2 separate regions of the Homo sapiens genome follow, and region 2 is linked to region 1. A link means that fine-mapping ties the variant in region 1 to the expression of a gene that starts in the linked region. Tissue or cell type: whole blood. Region 1 holds a variant in brackets; the other region holds the start of a gene. All regions are shown on one strand. Distances are from middle to middle.

What was found. PIP is the estimated chance that this variant, and not a neighbour inherited with it, causes the effect.
Region 2: ZCCHC24 starts here. The variant in region 1 is fine-mapped to the expression of ZCCHC24 in whole blood (INTERVAL, PIP 0.95).

Annotation. Positions count from the first base shown.
Region 1 is chr10:79,416,450-79,419,198 of GRCh38, forward strand. The region is part of intron 2 of ZCCHC24 (zinc finger CCHC-type containing 24); the gene reads right to left. Among named protein-coding and RNA genes, the nearest start is that of ZCCHC24, 28 kb to the right of the region's middle. The variant G/C (reference allele first, on the strand shown) is at 1,245.
Region 2 is chr10:79,444,110-79,446,858 of GRCh38, forward strand. ZCCHC24 (zinc finger CCHC-type containing 24) reads right to left here and starts at 1,515. Exons shown (of 4, transcript NM_153367.4): 1 at 1,086-1,515. The coding sequence starts at 1,331. It overlaps LOC105378383 (a long non-coding RNA gene), which reads left to right and starts at 2,132. Exons shown (of 4, transcript XR_946104.4): 1 at 2,132-2,749. RefSeq lists silencers at 1,368-1,427, 1,438-1,947.

The DNA.
Region 1 (2,749 bases):
CTGTGCTGGCTCTCTGAGGCCTGAGCTGGTGGGATAAGGTGGGGAGGAGGGGATTAGAAATCACCCAGGGCTCAAATCCCAGCCATGCCCTTGGCTCCTGTGTGACTCTGGGCGAATCCCTTGACGTCTCTGAAGACATCAGTGATGTGCTGGTACATGGAGGATGCTCAGTCAACATTAGCTCCCTGCCTTTCTTTCCTCCTCCACATCCTGAGTCTTGTTCATTTCTTCCTTTTTTTGCACATATTTATGACAGCACAGCCTCTGAAGCAAGACTGCTGGGGAACATGTCCAAGCTGTGTGACCCTCGGCAAGTCACTTAGCCTCTCTGTGCCTCAGTTTCCTCCTCTGTGCAATGGGGATAAGAAGAGTGTCCAGCACAAGGGCCATGAGAAGATTAGAGGAGTCAATGGGTGAAAAGTGCTCAGAGCAGTGCCCGGAACACAGTGAGCGCTCCCTGTGCGTGTAGCTGCTGTGCTGTTAATATGTTTCCCTTATGACGGGGCCCTGCTCAGAGTGGGCACCACGGCAGACACTGTGGATGGCGCACTGAAGCCACAGCAACGCAATGGCTCACACTTGCTGAGCACTCACTATGTGCCAGGTGCTGCGCTAAGTGATTTTCTGCCAGCCTTCCCCCTCCCCGGGATCACAATCAAAAGAGAATACAAAATACTAAGCCGTTTGTGCAGGGTGTTTTGGGAACACAGAGGGAGGACTGATGCATGGGGAGGGCTCAGAGGGCCTGCGGGAGGGAGGGGCACAAGGCTCTGTTTGAGCTTCACAGTCCCCAGGAAGGAGCAGAGGAGCATGGGCCCCTGTTGGGTTTTACCCCTTGTCATCATGCCTACTGCTTTGGGGGCACCCCTCCACCTCACCATCACCCCAACCTGTCAGGGAGAGACCTGTGGCTCCCACACAGCCAGGGAACTTGGAGGAAGCCAGGCAGGGAGGAAGGCCTGGGTTCACAGTGCCTCCTGCAGCCTGATTTCTGCCAGGGCTGGAGATCAGCAGGTCTACAGCATGTCCTAGAGGATGGACCCCCATCCGTTGTTGTGGGCAGAGGGAGCAGTGGGAAAGGCACGGCCTAAGGTCAGACTGACTTGGCCTGATCCTAACCAGCTGTGGGACCAGGGGCAAGTTATGTAATCTGTTACAAAAGAAAAGAGGAAGAAAGGATGAGAGACAGAGATGAAGAAAGAGAAGAAGAGTGGGCACATGGGCCACAGATGACATCCAGGTGA[G/C]TGTAAGAACCCAGCCAGCAAATGAGACGAAGGTGCTCCGTGAGCCAGGCATGAGGAAGGCCTGATGTCCTCGGGCTCCTCACCCCCATTCCATGCACATTTCTTCCCTGCACCTGCTGCCCCGTTTCTCTGAGCCCTGAGCCTTGGAATGGGAGGGAGTGGGGGCGGTGTGTTGAGGAGCCATGTCTCCAAGTCAGGCCAGGTCAGTGGTGCCAAGTCCTCTAACCCACAGGCTGGGATCTGGCCACCTTGCCCCAGCTGGGCCACCTCCCACTCCACACAAAGCCACTGGGAGCAGGAGGCACCCAACACAGGCTCCACCCTGGGCAGCCACCCCAGACATGGTGGAAAGGGAAAATGCTGCCCTCACAAATATGCCTCCAAGACCCCATGGCAGTTGAGGCAGGGGTCAGCTCACAGCAGCCACCAAGGCCTAAACACCCTCGCTCGCACACCTCTGATCATCTCAGCAAATGTGGCTGCTCGCTGGGCAGTGGAGCAAATGGTATAACTTCACAGTTCTCAAAGCGCGTTCACCTGTCTGATCGCCTCTGGATCTCACAGAAGCCCTGAGAGACAGGCTTCATTGCTGATGCCACTTCATGCATGGGGGTGTGGGGGCCCAAGGGTAAGGTCAACTTGGCCAATGTTGAACAGCTAGAGAGACAGCCCTGGGATGAGAGCTCGGGCCTTCTGACCCCAAGGCCATGCTCCCTCTGCCTGCCAGGCAGACACAGACCTCGCCTGGGAAGTGACCTCAGGAAGTAGGAGACAGACTTGTGCCAGGACCGGCCCTGGGCTAGGCACGACTCACCAAGGCAGGAGCACATGGGGCATAGAAGGGCATAGGGGCTGCACCATGCAAGAGGACGTGTTTGGGCTGAACCTGGGGGAGATGAGAGAGTCACTGGCTAAGGCCATAGCACAGGTGGAGTGGGGATGAGAAGGCTGAGCAGAGGTCAAACGGCCCAGGCTGGGCTACCTTCCAGGACTGGGGCAGGGCAGAGTGAAGCCCACCCAAAGAGGGGCATTCTCTGTCCCCTAGGGGCCAGATGGGGATGGGGGAAAGATGAGAAACCTGGTTGAGATTTCTTACCTCTTGAGGGCCTTAAAACCAGGTTCTGGGGAAGGGGTGCTGTCCTGACAAGTTAGGGTTCAGAGAGGAGAGCTCTGAGGCCCTGGATGGTTGGGGAAGACTCCCTGAGAGAGGTGGGCTCAAGCTGGGCTCTGAAAGGGGGATAGGAGAGAAGAGATTCGGGAAAGGCATTGCAGACTCGGGGACAGTGTGAGCAAGGCCTTGAGGCTGAGAAGCCCAAGGGGTGTGTGCATGCACGCACGTTTGCATGTGTGCACATATGTGTCTGCGTGCATGCATGAAATTAAGCAGCTGCAGGGGTGGGTCAGGGAGAAGGAGAGGGGCTCCGGTGGGTGTTGCTTCCCAGGTATCCGGGCTGCTTCTCATCTCCCTCACACCAACCCTCCCATCAGGTACATGAGCCTCACTT
Region 2 (2,749 bases), 28 kb after region 1:
CCAGGTCTGGAAGGAAAGTGACCCCCATGTGTGTCCTCCCCCGAACACACCTCTTGCATCTTTGCAGAGAAAACCCCCACAAGGGGAGGAAGTGAAGGCCACAGATGGGTGTCTGAAATTCCCAAATGAGGCAGGAGTAAATGGAGGGAGGGGAGGAGTCCAGCCCACGGAAAGGAGTGGTATCTGGGCAGGCCCTGGAGACTCTTCAAAAAGGGCTGGGAGGTGGTGGCGATCTGTGTATTTATCTTGCTGGCAAAGAGGCGCTGCCCAGTCAACTTTGTAACTGAATCCACCAAACAGGCAGACTTTGCAACACAGCCGGCCCAGGTTTCTGCAGAAGGCGCTGGGCAGCTGGAACCTCTCCCCCCCCCTTTCTAGCCCCCCTCCCAAGAGCTCAAGAGGATTTCCCTTTCATTTCCTTCGAGGCTGGGAGGGCTGGGGACAGCGCAGTCTGTGGGGTCAAGCCCTCAGAAACCACTTCCTATGTGGCTGGGGGAGGGCGAGCAGCTGGAGGACGTATCTGGGGTCCCCGAGTGAGAACAGCAGGAGAAGCCCTCTGGGCAGTCACTGCTCTCCAGGGTGCCTTTCGGGTCGGGAACCGCAGAGGTCGGAGAAAAGATTTTAGGCCCTTCCAGAGGAGCTCCGAGCAGAATCTGCACTCTCGGTCCCAGCCCGCGGTGGCCAGGACGAGGATAAGGTTGGGCGTGAGAAGGACACTTCGAAGGGGCTCCCCGCCCAGGCCGCACCCCAGCTGTCTGAAGAAAATCCGGAGACAACCCCTCCTCAACTCCCTCCCCCAACCCCTTTGGAGCAGGGCTGCCCTGGCAGGGAGAGGGGGCGGGAGAGCTCCGCCCCGGCCTGCATTGCTCCAGCCCGGGCTCAGCCGGGAGGTGACGCGCACCCGGCACCCCGGGGACTTCGGGCGGCGAGTTTGGCAGAGTTGAACGAAGCCAAGCCAAGCCGGGCCCGGCAATGCGGAGCCGGGCCGCGCCAGGCCAGGAAGAGCGGGTCAGACAGGGAACGGCCCGCCACGGTGGGGCGGTGGGGCGGTGGGGCGGTGGGCGGGGGCGCGCGGGGGCACCCACCTCTCCGCGCTGCAGCTGGAAGAAGCTGTTGAGATAGCTGGAGTGCAGGGGCGAGCCCAGCTGCTCGGGGCGGCCCTTGCCGAAGGCCAGCTCCGGGGGTGCGGCGCCGGCGGTCGGCTCGGGCCGGAAGGCATCGAAGGCGCTAGCCTGGTGCGTGTCCTGCAGCGACAGGTAGACCCAGTTGAGCAGCTGGGCGGGCTGGTACACCGAGGCGGCGCTCGTGTCGATGGCCGACAGCAGGCTCATTTTGTGGCGGCGGTGCCGGCCCCTCCCCGGCCGCCCGCTCGCGGCCCCCCTCCGCAGCGGAGGGGCGGGCACCGGGGAGCCTGTGCCCACTGCCCGCCTCCCGAGCCCCGACGGTGATCGCCCCGCGCCCTGCGCCCCGCGCGCTGCCCGCAGCCGCTGCCGCTGCCGCCGCCTCCCCCCGACTGCGGCCCCGGCGCGCGCAGGCGGTGGAAGGAGGCAGCGAAAGTTGGGCAGGAAACTTTTGGCCCCGCCCCTCCGCCCCGCCCACTGCGTCCCGCCCCGCCCGGCGATCCGCTATCTGCCTCGCGGCTGACCCCTCCAGCGGCGGCTCCGGGGGTGGGGTCCACGATGCCCCGCCGCCCACTCCCTGCCCCGCCTGGCACTGTCCTCGCCCTGCATTGGCTGTCTCGTTGAATATGAACCGTCAGGGGTGGGGAGAGAGGGGAGTGAGGCTCATCTGCATATGCAGCACGGCGCGGGCCCGCCCATGCGAGGCCCCGCCCAAGCCCCACCTCGTCCCAGCCCGGCCAACCCAGCTCCCCGAGCTGCCGGGAGCTCAGTGCAGCCCCGGCCTAATCAATTTCGTCTCCCTCTGTCGTCAGCGCTCTTGTCTCGTTCTTTCCAAATCCTCTGCAATTGTTTTTCACTCACTTTTCCTTTCCTATTTTCCCTCCTTTCTCATACTCCTTCTTTCTCTCTCTCTTAGACTAGTACTAGTCTCCTGTGTCCGTCGTCCTTGTATGTGGCGCCCTCCGTGTGTGTGTGTGTGTGTGTGTGTGTGTGTATGTCCTTCTCTTTCTCTCACTCTTCTTGTCTCCTTTCTTCTATTTCCGTCTGGTCTGATGTTTCTCCCTGTCTCTCCCGCTCCTCTCTCAGACGCGTGTACACAGACGCACACACTTCTAACTCCCTCCTCTCGCTATCACCATCGGACCCTCCCCCTCCTACTTAATTCCTTCCATCTGCAGAATCACTTTGCGGGCCGGCTGCGCCAAGGGGGGCCCGGGTTCCTGCCCCAGGAAAGACTCCCCGCCCCCTCCCCCCCCCCTTCTCCTATTTCTGCTCTGGGCCCGCCTCGCTTCTCGACCCTCTTCCTCCACCCCGGCTCCAGCCCTAGCCCGCCCCGGTGCCTTGGCGAGTCGCCAGGACACCAGCCTGGGCCGGGGGAGCTCGGGAAAGCGGCTGTCACCCATCTCGCTGGGACAACTCAGCTAGTCCAAGACTGCCTGGAGGGAGCCCCGCCCCCGCCTCCGCCTCCGCCTGACGCCCCAGGAAGCCCCGGGGCCTTCACCGTCTCTTTCTCCGGGTGGTCTTTGCTGCGCCAGCACCGGGGACCTAGCCCAGAGGAACTCACCGCCTGGCTGGGACCGAGTCACCTCTCCCACTTTCAGTCTGGCTCTGGAGCCATTCCGCCCAGC